Linked DNA regions of Homo sapiens. The protein of the gene in region 3 interacts with the protein of the main gene of each other region in a biochemical or structural test. Each region holds a gene or a part of one and is shown on either strand. Other genes may lie near its edges.

Region 1 (5,327 bases), on a different chromosome or scaffold from region 3:
GCCTCACATATCAGTGGGAGGATATCTGGGTTTGGTGACCCCTTCATCTTCCTCACTTCTCTCTTCTGTGAGTTTCTGCCTATCTCCATTAGATTCAGGGCTACATCAGGCTTATATTATTCGATAATTTCTTGATTATCCACATACTTTCCTCCTCCTAACTTCCAACTGACCTCACACCATGTTCCTGACCTGCAAGCCTTCCATCCTCAGAGAAGTTTCTTTGGTATTTGTGAAGCAAATCAGAAAGATAAAATACAAAGTTTACAAATTCACATATTTTCAAACCTGATTTAGACTGCATTTGCTTGATGTGGTATTCCATAAGTTCTAATAGCCATGAGATGACTCTTCCAGGGATCCCTAGGTTGCTGAAGCCTAATATTTATTCTCTGAACCATTAGGAGCAGAGAAGAGCATGGAAACCAGGAAAGGTACACACTGAACCAGTTAAGGAAATAAGAGTAGGAAACAGGATACGCATTATCTTATTTCCTCAGGCTTGCGCCAACCTGTGGTTATTTGCAGAAAGTCAGAGACCAATAATCCTTAGAAAAGAAGCCCATGTTCTCCAAGTCTTGTTGCTCTTTCAGAAATTGAGCTGACACTCCAGGGCCCAAATTAAAGAAGGGGCATAAGACCCAGATCTTTAAACCACCACTCAGAATCCATATTTGAAAAGCAACCATTTATTAGAACCAATACAAGAGTATGAAAAGGGGGAAAAGAGGAGGGTAGAAGAGGGGGAGAGAATGAGGTCTGCATCAGATGTCAGTTATGGAAACACATAAATGCTTACTTTTTAAACATTTACATTTAAAAGGTGAACATATATATAGACCACTTATACTTTAAAAAAAAAATCAAAAGCAGACATGTTTGGCTGAAATAAAACCAAGAAACACAGCTAAAACTCCCCCATAAACCTAAAAGTCCATGGAGAATTCAATTTCTCATTTCCATTCAGAAATCTGGCTACAAAGTGATTTGTTTGCTATTTGGGACAGTACAGAGTGCTGAAAGAAACCCAGCTCTTGAGTCTCTTAGATCCCATCCTGTAGGAAGTGGTGGGAAAGCCAGCGGACCATGGGCAAGTCAACTCCTGGCTACTTGGCAGGGAGTCAGACTGTGCTCTCTCCATTCCCCAGGACTCCACAGAACCATCTGGTACTGCTAGTGCTGGGTGAACAGTGAGAGCAGAGTCCACAAAACACAGAGAACCAGAATGTGACCGCAAGGAGCCAGGACCTTGTGCTTTTTCATGGATTACAAATCTAGGGCCAAGGAGAGGGAAAGCAGAAAGAGCCCTATTGGGAAGAGGAGCTGGCTGCGCCCCTAAACTGAGATGGAAAGAGTAAGGCTCTTGAGCCCACACCTGGCCAAGTAGAAATAGTGTCCAAAGTTTTCTCAAACCAGAGGGAAAAAAGGTCAAGGTTAGGTTCAGACTGCAGACACTAAGAGATGACAGATGTTGAATACGGTGAATGGGATGAAGCTTTAAGGATCAATGCCCAATTCTGAGTGTTATACACATTTCTAGGAAAAATAATTCCAATGTAGCTTTTGGGGGTGGGGGGTGGAAATAAGGTGGTCACATTTATTCAATCAGCTGGTCCCTATGAGGAAGGAGAGGCCCAGGTACAGATACCACAAAGGGGTACAGTGACCCAGCTGTCCTGGGATTGGTTGGGGAGTGGTAAGCAATGACATAAATCAAAACCATTGAGGGTTGCTTTGATCCTGAGACAGTCTGAGTCTGCTTCAAACCCATGGGGAAAGGAACTTTAATCCCCAACCTGCAGAGAGAAATACGCAGTAGCATCCCTGCCTCACGATTCCCTAATCCAATGCTCTTGAATCTGAAATGGCCTCCCTCTGTGAATGCAAGACACAGAAAATCCCAAGTGCCTTCCCCAACAACATCCTAAGTAAGTCTGGACTAGTAAGATTCCAACATTCATGAAAACACTGTCAACATCTGAACTAGCAGCTTTGATGAGGGGTGGGGGGCAGAAAATTTGCCGAGTCACTAAGTAGTTCCAGTCTTGGAGACAGCTCAGTGAGGACCAAAGCCTGTGTGTCAGGCTTAAACTCTGGCTCAAGACATCCTCCACAGAGGACCCTGAAGTATTCTATTAACTTTGATTTACAATGCCTCACAACAACACCCCTGTGAGGTAGGTCAGTATTATTAACCCCATTTGACAGATGGGGAACTGAGGCATTGAAAGAAGTGACTTGCCCAAGGTCAACCATTATCAATCAGTTGAGGAGGTGGGCACACAGAGTCAGCATCCACTCGATTCTTGTTCCATTTCCCAGAGCATTTTACCTCTCAGAGTGTACTTGGGAGCAGAGGGAAGTTGGCAGGATACACCTCATTCCACAAACTAGATTAATTCAATAACTGAAGGGTATTAACTGAGGGCCTATTATTTATCTAGTATAATGTGAGGAATCTTGGAAAAATGAACTGCTTCTGAAAGTCATGTTATAGATGTTTTGAAAATAAAATTACATCTTTAACATTAAGGACATGAATTATTTTGTAAAGAAATATTCACTTTATCTTAGGAGGTGAAGGACTAAGTCACACTGATTTCTCAGAGTTTTATACTGAGTAACCTGAATTCCTAAAATCCAGAAAGCAAGATCACATTCCAACAGAAACAATGAATAAGAACCTTTTCCCCAGTGGTGGTTCTTGGTAGCGCTCTTATAAAGCTGCAAGTTGGTGGCGTGGGAATCCTAGCACCACAAAACACCCTCTTACTACATCACATCCCTCCCCACAATACCCAGAGGGCTGCATTTTTCCAACCTTTCTGCCTCAGCTCAACTTCAAGAGTTACAGCATCTTCAAAAACACCTCAAGGGTAAGGATACAAATGGTGACCCCTGCTTTTCTATTCAGGGAGAGGGGATGAAAATATTCTCTGTAACTAATCATATAGACTCTTGAATTCTTTCCTCCTGTGAGAGATGTAACTCTTTAACAAAAAAAAGGTAGAAGAAAAAACAGTTATGTCTTTTCTCCCCCTTTGGATTTACTTTGGATTCTGGTAGAAATCATTATGTCTCTTATCCTAAACTGAGGAGGTGAGGGGTGAGGGTGACACGAGACAAACACCAAACTCACCACCAGCCCTCGTTTAGAATCCAATCCTAAAGCTACCGGAAACCAGAACACTGACTTGAGCCTTAAGAGTGTTGTGACATGATTAAACTGTCTTTTCAGGTGTTCTCAAAGAATTTCTAGGCAGAAAGCCTCTCCTTTCTTCCATACCTCTTCACAGCAGCCAGTGTAGGAAGTCCCCACATACAACAGAAACTCAAAAGATGATTTATCAACACATACAGTAAAATGTTCACTAGGGGCCGGGTGCGGTGGCTTATGCTTGTAATCCCAGCACTTTGGGAGGCTGAGGCACGTGGATCACTTGAGCTCACGAGTTGGAGACCAGCCTGGGCAACACAGGGAGACTGTCTCTACAAAACATTTTTTAAATAATAAAATTAGCCAGACACCGTGGTGTGCGCCTGTAGTCCCAGCTGCTTGGGAGGCTGAGGCAGGAGGATCATTTGAGCCCAGGAGATTGAGGCTGCAGTGAGCTGTAATAAAGATACTGTGGCCGGGTGCTGGCTCACGCCTGCAATCCCAGCACTTTGAGTGGCCGAGGCAGGCGGATCACAAGGTCAGGAGTTCAAGACCAGCACGGCCAAGATGGTGAACCCTGTCTCTACTAAAAATACAAAAATTAGCCGGGCATGGTGGCAGGCGCCTATAATCCCAGCTGCTCAGGAGGCTGAGGCAGAGAACTGCTTGAACCCGGGAGGCGGAGGTTGCAGTGAGCCAAGATCACGCCACTGCACTCCAGCCTGGGCAAAAGAGCAAGTTTCCATCTCAAAAAAAAAAAAAAAAAAAAAAAAAAAAGGTTCAATATGGATACTCTAGGTACAGGAACCATTCCAAGACCTAAATAGATTTTTTTTTTTTTCCTCACTGATAGCTGATCACATTAAACAGGTACAGGTGCTAAGAAAGTTTAAGACTGATCTTTTGGCAATGACAGTTTAGGTTAACTCTGTTTGGAATTCCTAAAAATAAAAAGAAATCCCTTAAAAAAGGCTGACAAACTGACCACTTGGCCTTGAATCGACTGTTAGGGTCACACCTGCCAATGCCAGGGGACATCACAAAAAAATAGAGAATGCCAAGATAAAAAGTTCACTGCATTCAATTTGGCCTAATTTCTTGATAATAGTTTCCTATTAGATTTTCCGATTAATACTGATGGCTCTTACCTAGGCTGTGATAATTAGGTTTTGATCTATTGTGACATTAATGATCACAATCAGTTGACTTTGAAATTGTCTTAATTAATGGCTCTTTCCTTGTCAGCTTTTGCCTCCAGTGCAGGATTCATTCCCTTCCCCACTGCCTTGTTTTAACTCCTTCTCTTACTGACCTCAGAAACAAATAGCATTGGAGGATCACTTTCTTCCCATAAAACAAGACTTTAAACTATTTTAAAACATTTCTCTTGACAGAGGAGCAATATGAGATGATGTTAGATGAAATGAGGATCAGAATGAAAAGGCAAGAGAACAAGCTGTCAATGAACAGGAAAAATTCCATCTTAGAAAACAACCAAAGTCAAGCACAATGTTAAAGTGACAAGTTGAAGTAACTCTAAAAAGACAAGATGAGGTAGATTAAAATCCAAGAAAGTCAGCACAAGCAAAAAGAAACCAGAATTGTTTTTATGAAACTATCTAAAAAACTTCACACTTTAACTTTCCAGAGCAGTTACTCTAATTCCTGGGAATTCTGACTTCCAAAGTTAGTCAACTCTCAATTATCCAGGCAGAAATAAATATCTTTTTCTTGTGGTCATCCATGGGTCAGAATCGACAACATCCTTACGATCAGACTGTTTCTTAACCCAGCTACGCTTCGATGATTAAATCTGAGACTCAGATTTAATATACAAGGTATATGTATTTCTGGCAAAGGTTTCCACATAACTGATACAATTCTCTGCTTAGAAATCACCCTCTCGGCCCGGCGGTGGCTCACGCCTGTAATCCCAGCACTCTGGGAGGCCGAGGTGGGTGGATCATGAGGTCAGGAGATTGAGACCATCCTGGCTAACAAGGTGAAACCCCGTCTCTACTAAAAATACAAAAAATTAGCCGGGCGTGGTGGCCGGCGCCTGTAGTCCCAGCTCCTCGGGAGGCTGAGGCAGGAGAATGGCGTGAACCCGGGAGGTGGAGCTTGCAGTGAGCCGAGATTGCGCCACTGCACTCCAGCCTGGGAGACAGAG
Region 2 (7,646 bases), on a different chromosome or scaffold from region 3:
GCCAACATAAATGATCTTCCACTCCAGGTCTGCAAAGATATAGGAGGGTTAACTAATTGAAATAGCTCAACAGCAAGAAGGCAGGGATAGGCTCTTGTATTTTTTTTTTTTTTTGAGATGGAGTCTCGTTCTGTCACACAGGTTAGAATACAGTGATGCGATCTCAGCTCACTGCAACTTCCGCCTCCCAGGTTCCAGTGATTCTCATACCTCAGCCTCCCGAGTGGCTGGGATTATAGGTGCCCGCTGCCACGCCTAGCTAATTTTTTTTTTCTTTTTTGAGATGGAGTTTCACTCTTGTCACCCAGGTTGGAGTACAATGGTGTGATCTTGGCTCACTGCAATCTCTGCCTCCCAGGTTCAAGCGATTCTCCTGTCTCAGCCTACTGAGTAGCTGGAATTACAGGCACCTGCCATCATGGCTGGCTAATTTTTTTATTTTTAGTAGAGACAGGGTTTCACCATGTTGATCAGGCTGGTTTAGAACTCCTGACCTCAGGTGATCCACCCGCCTTGGCCTCCCAAAGTGCTGGGATGACAGGTGTGAGCCACTGTACCTGGCCTGTTTTTGTATTTTTAGTAGAGATGGGGTTTCACCATGTTGGCCAAGCTGGTATCCAACTCCTGACTTCAAGTGATCTGCCCGCCTCAGCCTTCCAAACTGGTGGGATTACAGGTGTGAGCCACTGCGCCCGGCCACATCTTCTATTTTATTTTTATTTACTTATTTTTTGAGACAGTCTCCCTCTGTTGCCTAGGCTGGTGTGCAGCGGGATGTTCATGGCTCACTGTAGCCTCAACCTCCTGGGCTCAAGCGATCCTCCTGCCTCGGACTCCCACCATGTTGGGATCACAGGTGTGGGCTGCTGTGCCCAGCCTTGTGGTAATTTTAGACAGATCCTTAATATGTTAAAAGACTATTATTCCATCTGTCAGACACTTAGTGCCAGGCACTGCAGTCTTGAATGCTGAGGTGGGCACAAAGCTCTACCTCCATTAGGGAATTCTGTCTTGTAAGCCTAGCTATGACAGGTGACCTTGACTATACCTCTGGGGAAACCTGGGCCTCTCAAGGCCTGAGCGTGAACTGTATGGCAGAGGCTGAATTAAGAGCCACGTGACACAGACGTGCTGAGAAGGGAACGGCAGGGAGTTGGGTCATTTCAGGGCCCTGCCCACTGGGTGCTGGGATAGGAAGCAGCATCCTCTTTCACACACAGGGACCGGTGCCACTCAACGAAGTGGATCCCTCGACAACTGGGGCAGGGTGGCAGATTCCAATCCGGCAGGAGAGCCAGCCTGCAGGAGGGGGAAGGTGAGGTTGCTCAGGGAGCCAGCCACCCTGGTCTTCCAGATCTGGCACCAAGTCATGCCTACTTAGAGACATTTGGGCAACTCAGTCAACAAATGTGGCATCCCGGGGTGATCCTCCAAACACTTTTTTTTTTTGACAGTTTCACTCTTGTTGTCCAGGCTAGAGTGCAATGGTGAGATCTCGGCTCACTGCAACCTCTGCCTCCCGGGTTCAAGTGATTCTCCTGCCTCAGCCTCCTGAGTAGCTGGGATTATAGGCGCCCGCCACCACAGCCGGCTAATGTTTTGTATTTTTAGTAGAGATGGGGTTTCACCATGTTGGCCAGGTTGGTCTCGAACTCCTGACCTCAGGTCATCCATCCGCCTCCGCCTCCCAAAGTGCTGGGATTACAGGTGTGAGCCACCGTGCCCAGCCTCAAACCCTAACTCTTGCACCCCATCCAGCAGGAGGGCCCCCTCCCCTGAATATGCTCCATTGAGATGAAAGGAAAGTGCTTATGGAACCTCTGGCTGTCAATCACAGGAAATTCCGGTCAACATGGCCTCTTGCAGGAGGTCCAAGTGTATCAGGGGCAAGGTCATGCTGGTACAGGGAGGCTTGGCAAGAGGCTTGAAACTTATTTTTGGCTCTTTAGAAATTACACAACCCTTCAGCTCTAGCAGCTGGGGGAAGTTTCACAAGCTGTGATTTTCACAGGAAGCAAACTCTCTCAGAAGCTGCCCTGTTCCTTGGTCCAGTGTCCCACAAGAGCATCCAACTTTGGAAGCATGCTGCTGCCAGGTCATGACTACAGAGGCTTGTCACCTGAGCCCCATGCCCTTCTTTGATGCACTGGCTGCCTGTCCCTTTGTGGTTTCACTCAGGAACCCTATAGCAGGTCTGTAGGATACGGGTGACCATTGAACTCACAGGTGTTTGGTCGAACTAGCCTCTTACTATTTGCAGGGAGGAAGTTGACTTTTTTCACTGGAGATGGGGTCTCGGTCCGTCACCCAGGCTGCAGTGCAGTGGCATAATCATAGCTCACTACAGCCACAAATTCCTGCGCTCAAGTGATTCTCTTGCCTTAGCCTCCCAAGTAGCTGGGACCACAGGCTTGTGCCACACGCCCAGGGAATTTTTAAATTGTTTTTAGAGATGAGGTCTTGCTTGGTTGCCCAGCCTGGTCTCAAGCAATCCTCCCGCCTTGGCCTCCCAAAGTGCTGGAATTTGTCTGAGCCATCATGTCCAGCCTGTTGATTTATTTTTGTTACAAGTAGTGACACAACTGGAATCAAGTTTTGGGGGAAGACAGAAAAGCCAGCCAGCCCTGCTCTCTCCTTTCTAAAGCAGTTGTATCATTTTGGTGTATATCCTTGAGCCCTTTCCTCTCATAGCCGGTAGAATCCTGTACGGGTGCATTTAATTCATGTCCTGGGAAGGTAGACAAAAAAGACTAAAGTGTACCCACGAGCACCTGATGTTGTCCAGCTGAGGTCAATACTAATCGGCAAAACCTAAACAAAGAGCATGTGGAAACTCACCGAAATAAATGGGCCCCTGCAACATAGGCAGACTCGACTCTATTAAAAATCAACAAAATTAATTGGGTGTGGTGGCGCGTGCCGGTGGTCCCAGCTATGCGGGAGGCTAAGGTTGGAGGATCGCTTGAGCCTAGGAGTTCAGGGCTGCAGTGAGCCATGATCGAGCCACTGCATTCCAGCCTGGACGACAGAGACCCTATCTCAAAGGAAAAAAAAGAAAAAGAAAAAATGTACTGTGTTGACTGTCAGGCACAGGGGCTGAAATGGCTCTTTCAACCAGGGCTGGAAAGAAACTGGAGAATTAACTAACGGCTGTAGAGAAATACTGACTCAAGAGTTACAGAAGCTGGTTGGGCACGGCAGCTCACACCTGTAATCCTAGCACTTTGGGAGGCCGAGGCAGGCAGATTGCCTGAGCTCACGAGTTCGAGACCAACCTGGGCAACATGGTGAAACCCCATCTCTACTAAAAATATAAAAATTTAGCTGGGCATGATGGTGTGCACCTGTAATTCCAGCTACTCAGGAGTCTGAGGCATAAGAACTGCTTGAACCTGGGAGGCAGCAGAGATTGCAGTGAGCCGAGATTTTGCCACTGCACTCCAGCCTGGGCAACAGAGCCAGCCTCCGTCAAAAAAAAAAAAAAAAAAAAAAAAAAAAAAAAGAAGAAAGAAGGAAAGAAAGGAAGAAAAAAAGAGTTATAGGTATAGGGCCAGGTGAGGTGGATCATTGGATCATGGCTGTAATCCTAGCACTTTGGGAGGCTGAGGCGGGTGGATTGCTTGAGCTCAGAAGTTCGAGATCAGCCTGGGCAACATGGTGATACAAAAAATACAAAAAATTAGCCAGGCGTGGTGGCATGCCCCTGTAGTCTCAGCTACTCGGGAGGCTGAGGTTGCAGTGAACTGAGATCGTGCCTCTGCACTCCAGCCTGGGTGACAGAGTGAGACTCCATCTCTACTAAAAATATAAAAAATTAGCTGGGCGTGGTGGTGTGCACCTGTAATTCTAATTTATTTTATTTTATTTTGACATGGAGTCTCACTCTGTTGCCCAGACTAGAGTGCAGTGGCACGATCTCGGCTCACTGCAAGCTCCGCCTCCCGGGTTCATGCCATTCTTGTGCCTCAGCCTCCTAATCAGCTGGGACTACAGGCACCCCCCACCACGCCCGGCTAATTTTTTTTTCTATTTTTAGTAGAGACGGGGTTTCACTGTGTTAGCCAAGATGGTCTCGATCTCCTGACCTTGTGATCCGCCTGCCTTGGCCTCCCAAAGTGCTGGGATTACAGGCATGAGCCACTATGCCCAGTCGAGAATCATCTTAAATTTGCTGAAGTGCCCAGGCATGGTGATGTGCACCTGTGGTTCCAGCTACTTAGGAAGCTGAGGTGGGAGGACTGCTTAAGCCCAGGAGTTCAAGTCCAGTCTGGGCAACATAGTGACACCCTATCTCTTTAAAAAAAAAAAAAAAAATCTGGCTGCAGTGTTATAAGTAGAGACATACGTGTATGATTTCATCTCTAAATATAATCTTTCTTTAGAATTATACATGGGACACAAATCACCAATACAGCAGGAACTCATAGCTATGAGTACAGGACACAGCTGTACACATGACGTGTGTACCTAACCTTCTGAGCAATGTCAAGGCAACTCAACTGTGTCCCATGTTATCTCTCTGCGCTAACTTCACAAGCTAGTCCCTGTGCAAGACATACCTCCACTGTGTGTTTGTGTGTATATATATATATATATATATATAAATGATAAGACTAAAGACATGTACACAATTAGTATAGCTGAACTAGCTAAAAAGTCTGCTTCCTGCTTTTTTGTTGTTGTTTTTTTGAGACAGTCTTGCTCTGTCGCCCAGGCTGGAGTGCAATGGCGCAATCTGGGCTCACTGCAATTTCCATCTCCCGGGTTCAAGCGCTTCTCCTGCCTCAGCCTCCCAAATAGCTGGGACTACAGGCACCTGCCACCAAGCCTGGCTAACTTTTGTATTTTTAGTAGAGACAGGGTTTCACCACATTGGCCAGGCTGGTCTCAAACTCCTGACCTCAGATGATCCACCTGCCTTGGTCTCCCAAAATGCTGGGATTACAGGGGTAAGCCACTGTGCCTGGCCATTTTTTTTTTCTTTTTTTTTTTTTGAAACAGAGTCTCGCTCTGTCACCCAGGTTGGAGTGCAGTGGCACAATCTCAGCTCACTGCAACCTCTGCCTCCCGGGTTCTAGCGATTCTTCTGCCTCAGCCTCCTGAGTAGCTGGGATTATAGCTGCGTGCCACCATGCCTGGCTAATTTTTGTATTTAGTAGAGCCGGGGTTTCACCACGTCGGTTAGGCTGGTCTCGAACTCCTGACCTTGTGATCCATCCGCCTCGGCCTCCCAAAGTGCTGGGATTACAGGTGTGAGCCACCACACCTGGCTTTTTCTTTTTTTTTTTTTTTGAGATGGAGTCTTGCTTTGTTGCCCAGGTTGGGGTGCAGTGGTGCAATCTCGGCTCGCTGCAAGCTCTGCCTCCTGGGTTCACGCCATTCTCCTGCCTCAGCCTCCCGAGTAGCTGGGACTACAGGCGCCCGCCACCACACCCGGCTAATTTTTTGTATTTTTAGTAGAGACGGGGTTTCACCATGTTGGCCAGGCTGGTCTCGAACTTCTGACCTCAGGTAATCTGCCCGCCTTGGTCTCCCAAAGTGCTGGGATTACAGGCGTGAGCCACCATGCCAGGCCTCCTTTGTTTGTTTGCTTTTTGCCTTTGTTCATAATCAAAGATGAGCTCTGCTGCCATAACAACTTCGTTATTTCTGGGTCAGAACATCTGGCTTCTATGACTTATTCAACCAGTGTCTGTTGAATTTCTCAGCTAAATGTGGAAGAATCTATTTCCAGATGTGGAAGATAAAAGTGCAAAGGGGGCTTGGGGCCCCTGAGAAATAGGGGTCACCCAACTGGGGCTTAGGGGTTAGGGTGGTTTTTTTTTTTTTTTTTTTTGAGATGGGGGTCTTGCTCTCTCACCCAGGTTGGAGTGCAGTGGTGCAATCATGGCTCACTGCAGCCCTGACCTCCTGGGCTCATGCAATCCTCCCACTTCAGCCTCCTGAGTAGCTGGGACCACAGACACGTGCCACCAAGTCCCGTTAATTTTTTGATGTTTCTGTAGAGACAAGGTTTTGCTATGTTACCCAGGCTGGCCCAAATTCCTGGGCTCAAGAGATCCTCCTTCCTTAGCCTCCCAAAGTGCTGGAATTACAGGCATGAGCCACCTCACACAGCTGGGTTGGGGGTTTTGTCAGATTTTCAGTTGACGCTGCTGAGAGTGAGGCAGATTCTCCCTTTTTCATGGAGAGGAGTCCAGAAGGAGGCAGAAAGCAAGCTGGCAGATCAGTCACAGAGAGCCCTAGGACTGGAAGAGCCAGGATTTCTCACTTGAGTTACTCAAAGGAAAAGCTTTATCATCCAGGTACAATTAACAATAGCATTCTCTGGCCAGGCGCTTAGGATTCAAAGTGTAATCCCAGCACTTTGGGAGGCTGAAGTGGGCATATCACTTGCGATCAGGTTTGAGACCAGCCTGGCCAACATGGTGAAACCTCGTCTCTACTAAAGACACAAAAATTAGCCGGGCATGGTGGCTCAAGCTTGTAATCCCAACTACTTGGGATACTGAGGCCGGAGAATCGCTTGAACTCGAGAGGTGGAGATTGCAGTGAGCTGAGATTGCACCACTGCACTGTAGCCTGGGTGACATAGTGAGATTCCATTTCTAATAATAATCATCATCATCATCATAATCATACGACGGGCACGGTGGCTCACGCCTGTAATCCCAGGCCGAGGCGGGCGGATCACAAGGTCAGGAAATCGAGACCATCCTGGGTAACACAGTGAAACCCCGTCTCTACTAAAAATCCAAAAAGTTAGCTGGGCATGGTTTCGGGCGCCTGTAGTCCCAGCTACTTGGGAGATTGAGGCAGGAGAATGGCGTGAACCCGGGAGGCGGAGCTTGCAATGAGCCATGATCACGCCACTGCACTCCAGCCTGGGTGACACAGCGAGACTCCATCTCAAAAATAAATAAATAAATAAATAAATAAATAAATAATAATAATAGCACTTCCCTTCACTGCATTTTGAGTGTCCTGATTAGGCAATAAATTCTGTGGTCATTCCTATCTATGCTCCACCCCTGAAACAGGGAATCCTTCCTTTCTTTCCCTGGATTGGAGCAAAGATAAAGAATTTAGATTCAAAACTTCAGTGCCAATACTTCTACAAACTGGCTGTGTGACTCTGGTGAAGTCACTCCATTTCTATTAAAAAATGATCAGCAGAGGCTGGACGCAGTGGCTCACGCCTGTAATCCCAGCACTTTGGGAGGCTGAGGCGGGCGGATCACCTGAGGTCAGGAGTTCAAGACCAGCCTGGCCAAGATGGTGAAACCCCGTCTCTACTAAAAATACAAAAATTAGCCAGGCGTCATAGCAGGCACCTGTAATCCCAGCTGCTCGGGAGGCTGAGGCAGGAGAATCGCTTGAATCTGGGAGGTGGAGGTTGCAGTGAGCCAAGATCGCGCCATTGCACTCCAGCCTGGGGGACAAGAGCAAGACTTCATCTCCAAAAAAACAAAAAAAGGACCAGCAGGTTGAATTTAGCCCTTCCGGCTCTAATTCTATAAATAAGTTAGTAAAGTCACAGGGCAGGGGCTTCCTAGGAGTAGAAGTACCAGATAATGACCGCACAACCATTTTTTTTTTTTTTTTTTTTTTTTGAGACGGAGTCTCGCTCTGTCGCCCAGGCTGGA
Region 3 (7,796 bases):
CACACCTCCATGAGGAACTTTGCCATTGCTGAATTCTTTCATATCCCAGTTTAGAATTCATGCCCAAATAGCCCGGGCGCGGTGGCTCACGCCTGTAATCCTAGCACTTTGGGAGGCCGAGGCAGGCAGATTGCCTGAGCTCAGGAGTTTGAGACCAGCCTGGCTGACAAGGCGAAACCCCATCTCTACTAAAAATACAAAAATTAGCCGGGGGTGGTGGCAGGCGCCTGTAATCCCAGCTACTTGTGAGGCTGAGGCAGGAGAATCGCTTGAACCTGGGAGGCAGAGGTTGCAGTGAGCCAAGATTGTGCCACTGCACTCCAGCCTAGATAACAGTGAGACTGTCTCAAAAAAAAAAAAAAAAAAAACTCCCAAAGCCAATTAATTACTAACACAGTCCTAAAGCCATTTAATTAATTACACAGAGACACAGAACTGACTCTGATCACCACAGATGTTAAACTAACAATCCAACAAAACCAGAACAGTCGCCTTGCTTGGGATGTGACAGAATGGTAAGTGCCTTTCCATCTCGTCTTAGAACAGCCTGGTGGGAGCTTGCGGGAAAGCAGCTGTTTTCAAACAGGTGTTCCTGGTTTCATCTTGCTGTCCTCCCTCCCTGACTCTACCACATTCCCTAGAACAGTATTTTACTGAACTACCTAAATGACAGATTGAGAGGGTCAGCCACACCTGAACTAAAAAGCATATCCAGGCCGGGCGCAGTGGCTCACGCCTGTAATCCCAACACTTTGGGAGGCCGAGGCAGGTGGATCACCTGAGGTCAGGAGTTCGAGATCAGCCTGACCAACATGATGAAACCCTGTCTCTACTAAAAACACACAAAAAAACTAGCCGGGCGTGGTGGCAGGCGCCTGTAATCCCAGCTACTCAGGAGGCTGAGGCAGGAGAATCGCTTGAACCCAGGAGGCGGAGGTTGCAGTGAGTCGAGTTTGCACCACTGCACTCCAGCCTGGGGAACAAGAGTGAAACTCTATCTCAAAAAAAAAAAAAAAGCATATCCAGCTCAAATCTCACTATCTGACACAAGACACACAGGTATCTATCTGGTTCCCGAAGAATCTCTGAAGGACAGCAATACTCACCATCTCCTCCCGATGCTAAAATTTCCCCAGTTGGAGAAAAACGCACAACATTGACGGCTTTGGTATGACGAGCAAGATTGGACAAAAATTCCACGATGGCTTTTCCATCTGGTCCCTTTTCTACCTTCCAGATCTGTCAATACCAACACATTCATTTGAAAAACATAGAATGGGCACATATTATACTGTCTGTATTAAAACAATACTATGGGCTGGGTGTGGTGGCTCACAACTGTAATCCCAGCAGTTTAGGAGGCCAAGGTGGGTAAATCACTTGAGGCCAGGAGTTCAAGACCAGCCTGGAAACACAGTGAGACCTAGTCTCTACAGAAAATTTAAAAAATTAGCCAAGTGTGATGGCACATGCCTGTAGTTCCAGTTATGCGGGAGGCTTAAGAGGGAGGATCACTTGAGCCCCGGGTCGGGGCTGCACTGAGCCAAGATCAGGCCACTGCACTCCAGCCTGGGCGACAGAGTAAGACCCTGTCTCAAAAAAAAAAAAAAAACAAAACTATGCTTATTTTCAGAAAGAAAACTTAGTTTTTCTTTTGAAACATAAAATCAAAGAACTCCCTATCTAAAACATAAATGTCTACTGTCCCCCTCCGCCTTCTTTCTAGAGCAACTTGTTACCCAGTAGGAACCAGGATCAGGATCCCAAAACAATGAACGTCCAGTTACAATAATCTAGGGAAAATGAATCAAATAAGAAAGCAGAGCCGGGCATGGTGGCTCAGGCCTGTAATCCCAGCACTTTGGGAGGCCAAGGTGGGTGGATCACCTGAGGTCAGGAGTTTGAGACCAGCCTGGCCAACATGGTAAAACCCCATCTCTACTAAAAATACAAAAATTAGCCAGGTGTGGTGATGAGCGGCTGTAGTCCCAGTTATTTGGGAGGCTGAGGCAGGAGAATAGCTTGAACCTGGGAGACAGAGGTTGCAGTAAGTCGAGATTGCACCACTGCACTCCCACCTGGGCAACAGAGCAAGACTCCGTCTCAAAAAAAAAAAAAAGAAAGCAGCTCTCTTTTGCTTTCATTGTTCACCGCAGGCCCTGGAAATTTAGCATTCTGGGCTAGATGACAAAGTAGTTTAGTTTGTTGACATACGTTAATTCATTCATTCATTTACTTAAGAGAAGGGTCTGGCTCTGTCACCCAGGCTGGAGTGCAGTGGAGTGATCGTTGCTTGCTTCAAACTCCTAGGCTCAAGCGATCCTCTCACTTCAACTTCCCAAGTAGCTGGGCCTACAGCTGCACACTGCCACGTCCCGCTACTTTTTCATGTCTGGCTGTTGCCCAGGCTGGTGTCGAACTCCTGGACTCAAGCGATCCTCTCACCTCAGCCTCCCAAAGCACTGGGATTACAGGCGTAAGCCACCGCGCCCAGCCGACACTGGTTTTAAGTAAAAGAATGAAAACTATTGCTTCAAGCAGTGTTCCCGGATGTCTATCTCTGCCCCAGTTTACCCTGACATTGGTGTCCACGCCGGCAGACGCCAGTCTGTGGATCCTCCCAGCCGTCCCATGCTGGAAGTCCAGGCTGTACACGGGCTCCTTGTTGTGCCAGGCTATTTCACAAGTGATGACTTTCATCCTCCTGAGTCTCGAAGGGGAAAAACGTTTCTCGGGCACCGTTCTACTTCTTCAAGACAGGAGAAAGCTGCAAAATGCTGGTGATGGATTAAACAACAGTGTTAACAGCAGCAAAGGGTTATTGAGCGCTGAATAGGGGCCAGGAGCCATTTAAAATGCACACTGCATTGGGAAAGGATGTTAACGTTGCCATCTGACAATAACACCTTGCTAGCTCCACCTAAAATGCTTCGCTGGGTCCTGACATCCACAAGTTTATGATACGCCGCTACATCCAGAAAAGCAAAACGAAACACCCAGGTAAAGGCTACCTAGGGGCCCCGGCCGTCTGCACGGCCTGTCCCCGCTTAGTAGGGGCTAGGGGCGCGCCCTGAGAGCCCGGGGAGGGGCCCGCCCCGGGAGGAGCCTCCCGGAAGAGGGGGCCAAACGGGGTAGGGGACCGGGGCGGCGGGGCGAGAGGAGAACCCCGCCTTTCCCAGGGACCGGGCGCTGGGCCCGGGAAGCTGGGACTGAGGCCGCCGGGAGGAGGCCGCGCGGGGCCGGGGGTGGACGGGGCCCCGCCGCCCCAACGCGCGCCGCTCCGGAGCTATCCCGGGGCCCAGGGGCCCGCCCTCGGCGAGGGCCTCTGGCCCGGACCGACGCGACCAAAAGAGCCGCGGAGCTGCCCGGGCCAGGGAAGCCGTACCTGGAGGGACCCGGACAGTCAGAGGCACCGTCACCTCCCGCGCAGCGCGCGCCGCTTCCCGCGCGCCGCAGGCCCCGCCCCCGCATGGGCGGGACCTCATAGACGCCCCGCCCCTCCAGCGGCCCTCAGGTCCCGCCCGACGTGGGCGGTACCCCAGGGAAGCCCCGCCCACTCATAGACGCCAAGGCGAGTCCTGCTCTGGCCCTGGGGTCGGAATCCCGGCCGGAATTTATGCCTGCCAGACCCACGACCGAAGGAAGAATGGATTCATTATTATTTATTATTATTATCCATTACTTATTCCTTGTTGATTCGCTCTTTTAGCAAAGGTTTACAGAGCCTGGGCTGTGTGTTAGACAGACCCTATGCTGGCGCTGGGCACTTGGAGGGCTAACACAACCGGTTCTCTTGCCCCTTCTGCAAACAAAAACTGAGATTTTTGGGTTTTCTGTATTGGCTTCTAGAACATTTTGGAGAGTTCAAAGCTATGAAATTGTTCAGTACCTAGCGCAAGGTTGCTTACATTTTATTATTATAGTAGATGCAGTTATAAACCCTTTTTAAGAACAGACTAACATTTTAAAGTGAGGCTGTAAATCAGTCGGTAGGCAGAGATAGATACCTCAGGCTTTTCGAAATGGGACGTTTCCAAATGAGACCTAATTTATCTGTGGGCTTCGCAGAAGGCCAGGAAACAAGTACCTCTGGATGCGCTGCTTTTACTGGATAAAAGAAACACACAGGGTTATCTGAGGAGCCAACTGCTCTAGGATTTTTGGAAAAAAAGAACAGACATGGATTCTTATATAAATACCGGCTGATGCTTTTAGCCAGCTTTATGAAAGGTACAGAAATTGCCTACAAATCCGTGTCTCATGTTGATGAGAATGGCTGTATGCTCCTTGAAGCCTGATTTCTACAGGAAGCTAGAATAACATAATCCGGATATGCAGTTTTTAGATTTTTCTCTTCAGGATTTACAGAGCTTGGACTGGGAATGACTATATACTTTAGATAATATGGCTGTTCTAAAAGTACAGATTCCTGGCCCTACTCAGCCCCATGATTCCGAATATCCAGCAGAGGCCCGTGCTCCAGGGGCTTGCATTTTCATAAACTCCCCGGTGGGTGTGATCATCAGTCTGTTTTGGAAAGCTCTGGATTCTTCGTGTCTCTCAAACATAAAATTTCTCCAAATTTCTCATAAATGCTGTTCATTCACAAATGAATAATCTGCCCACCTCTTGAAGTGTCACGACTCTGAACTGTGGATTTAAAAGATAAAAACACATGCTTTAAGTATTAAAAGTACATGAAGGAGTTGGCTTTCTTGGCGAACATTTTAGAGATCCGACTTCAGTGCCAACTTGATGAGCCAACACGGGCAGGGGATGCGGCTCTAGAGAGAGGCCCTGGGCTGTCAAATATTTTCTCAAAAAAAAAAAAAAAAGTATTTGTTCAAAACCTCAAAGTTTGCACCACAAATGTTGGACTAAAGAATTCCTGCCGGTCGCGGTAGCTCACGCCTGTAATCCCAGCACTTTAGGAGGCCGAGGTGGGCGGATCATGAGGTCAGGAGATCGAGGCCATCCTGGCTAACATGGTGAAACCCCATCTCTACAAAAATTACAAAAAATTAGTCGGGCGTGGCGGCGGGCGCCTGTAGTCCCAGCTACTCGGGAGGCTGAGGCAAGACAATGGCGTGAACCCGGGAAGCGGGGCTTGCAGTGAGCCGAGATCGTGCCACTGCACTCCAGCCTGGGCGAGAGAGCGAGACTCTGTCTCAAAAAAAAAAAAAAAAAAAAAAAAGGGAATTCCTATAACGCAATTCTAACTAGATTCCTCAACAACCACTGTTGTTCAGCTTGGGCCCCAAGCATCCATTTTGAGCAGAACTGCCTCAATTTAAGGGGACCAATGTTATTTGGTTCCTGAGAACTTTTTAATAATGAAAATTGATATAAAGGGACTAACTCTTAACTCAGCTTCGAAAAAAAACTTCTCAAGGCATTTTAATTTCCATTTGTAAGTGTGAACATTCTAAAATCAAAATCTGAGCCGGGCATGGTGGCTCACATCTATAATCCCAACGCTTTGGGAGGCCAAAGCAGGCAGATTGCTTGAGGCTAGGAGTTCCAGACCAGCCTGGCCAACATGGCAAAACCCCTTCTCTATAAAAATACAAAAACTATACAGAGTGGTAGTGTGTGCCTGTAATCCCAGCTACTCGGGATACTAGGGAGGCTGAGGCAAGAGAATCCATTGAACCCGGGACTTGGAGGTTGCAGTGAGCTGAGATGGCACCACTGCACTCCAGCCTGGGTGGCAGAGTGAGATTCTGTCTCAAAAAAAAAAAAAAAAAAAGCTTTGATAACAGACATACAAAATTCAGTACAGGGTTGGAAAAAAATGTTGAGCAAATATCAGAATAAGAAAACTAGGAGAAGCCAGGCGTAGTGGCTCACGCCTGTAATTGCAGCATCTGGGAGGCTGAAGCGGGCGGATCACTTGAGGTCAGGAATTTGAGACCAGCCTGGCCAACATGGTGAAACCCCATCTCTACTAAAAATAGAAAAAATAGGTCAGGCGCGGTGGCAGGCACCTGTAATCCCAGCTACTCAGGAGGCTGAGGCCAGAGAATCGTTTCAACCTGGGAGGCGGAGATTGCAGTGAGCCGAGATTGCGCCATTGCACTCCAGCCTGGGCAACAAGAGCAGAACTCCATCTCAAAAATAATAATAATAATAATAATAATAACAGCCAGGCATGGTGGTGGCGCCTGTAATCCCAGCTACTCGGAGGCTGAGGCACTAGAATCACTTGAACCCAGAGGGCAGTGAGCCAAGATCATGCCACTGCACTCCAGTCTGGGCGACAGAAACAGACTCAGTCTGAAAAAAAAAAAAAAAAAAAGAAAGAAAAAGAAAAATAGAAATGACGGAAATCAATACAGGAGATTGAGAACAACGGGACCTCTGGCACACTACTGGTGGAAGTGTAAACTGATGTAAATACTTTAGAAAACTGTTCAGCACTGTCTAATAAAGTTAATGATACGCCTACCCTATGACTCAGCAATTCCACTCCTTGGCATATATATCAGGAAAACAAAAGCAAACTCATACAAGAATCATTATCCATAATAGCCCCAAACTAGAAAGACACCAAATGTCCACCCACAGGAGAAAAGGTAATCAGACTGTGCCATATTCATACCACGGTATTCTACTCGGTAATCCAAAAGAAATACTGTGATAGTTAATTTTATGCCTCAGTTTGCCCGGGCTAAGACATACCCGATAGGTGGTCAACATTACTTCTGACTATGAGGGTGTTTCTGGAAGACTTTAGCATTTGAATCAGTAGACTGAGTACAGAAGATCCGCCCTCACCAACCTGGGCAGTATCTGGGGCATCATCCAACCTGTTGAGTCTGAAAAGAACAAAAAGTAGAGGAAGGGCAAATTCTGTCTCTTCTTGAGTTGGGACATCCTCTTCCACCCTCAGACATCAGAGCTCCTGGTTCTCAGGTCTTTTGACTCCAGGACTTATGCCACTGGTGTCCCTGGTTCTCAGGGCTTTGGAGTGGGACTAAGTTATACCACAGGCTTTCTTGGGTCTCCATCTTGCAGACAGCAGATCATGGGACTTCTCAGACTCCATAACCACTTAAGCCACTCCTCCTGATCAATCTCTTGCATCTATCATATTGGGCTCCGATTTTCTGGAGAACTCTACACTGACTGACACAGGCAGCAACATGGATGTGTGTGATGCACACAAGGAGTTATTATTTCAAGTGATTGGCAAACACAGAAATTTTATACTACCCCAAAGAAAGCTTACCTTCAGTCATACTATGGCTAGAAAATATTGGTATTGTTACATATATGCATACCTATGTATTTATGTATACATTAGGAAGAGCAAATACTTGTGTGGTTAGGAACCCAGATTTTCAGCAAAAGAGACTATATTATAGTCTCTTTTAGTTCAGTCTACTAAAAAGGCCTAGAAATGCCCAAACTAGGCCAGGCACAGTGGCTTATGCCGGTAATATCAACATTTTGGGAGGCTGAAGCAGGAGGATCACTTGAGCCCAGGAGTTCAAGACCAGCGTGGGCAACGTAGCAAGACTCCGTATCTAGAAAAAAAAAAAAAAAATCAGCCAGGCATGGTGGCATGCACCTATAGTCCCAGGTACTTGGGAGGCTGAGGAAGGCGAAGCACTTGAGCCCAGGAGTTTGAGGATGTAGTGAGCTATGATTATGCCATTGTACTCCAGCCTGGGCAACAGAGCAAGACCTGTCGCAAAAGAAAAAAAAAAAAAAAAAAAAAAAAGAAGAAGAAGAAAAAGAAATGGCCTAACTAGAAACAATGACTATATCTGTGCCTAGATTATTATCTTCAA

The links.
Region 1: the proteins of CHAF1B (region 3) and CBX5 interact in a test that uses a peptide from one of them, tested with the Homo sapiens proteins (one study listed by BioGRID).
Region 2: the proteins of CHAF1B (region 3) and ASF1B form a complex in vitro, tested with the Homo sapiens proteins (2 studies listed by BioGRID and IntAct).

Annotation. Positions count from the first base shown.
Region 1 is NC_000012.12:54,230,273-54,235,599, forward strand, and holds the end of CBX5 (chromobox protein homolog 5), read right to left. Parts: 3' UTR 670-5,327; downstream 1-669. UniProt on the Homo sapiens protein: Component of heterochromatin that recognizes and binds histone H3 tails methylated at 'Lys-9' (H3K9me), leading to epigenetic repression. In contrast, it is excluded from chromatin when 'Tyr-41' of histone H3 is phosphorylated (H3Y41ph).
Region 2 is NC_000019.10:14,126,209-14,133,854, forward strand, and holds part of ASF1B (histone chaperone ASF1B), read right to left. Parts: intron 30-7,646; coding exon 1-29. UniProt on the Homo sapiens protein: Histone chaperone that facilitates histone deposition and histone exchange and removal during nucleosome assembly and disassembly. Cooperates with chromatin assembly factor 1 (CAF-1) to promote replication-dependent chromatin assembly.
Region 3 is NC_000021.9:36,381,041-36,388,836, reverse strand, and holds the start of CHAF1B (chromatin assembly factor 1 subunit B), read right to left. Parts: upstream 3,446-7,796; 5' UTR 3,386-3,445; intron 2,778-3,385; 5' UTR 2,701-2,777; coding exon 2,575-2,700; intron 1,240-2,574; coding exon 1,107-1,239; intron 1-1,106. UniProt on the Homo sapiens protein: Acts as a component of the histone chaperone complex chromatin assembly factor 1 (CAF-1), which assembles histone octamers onto DNA during replication and repair.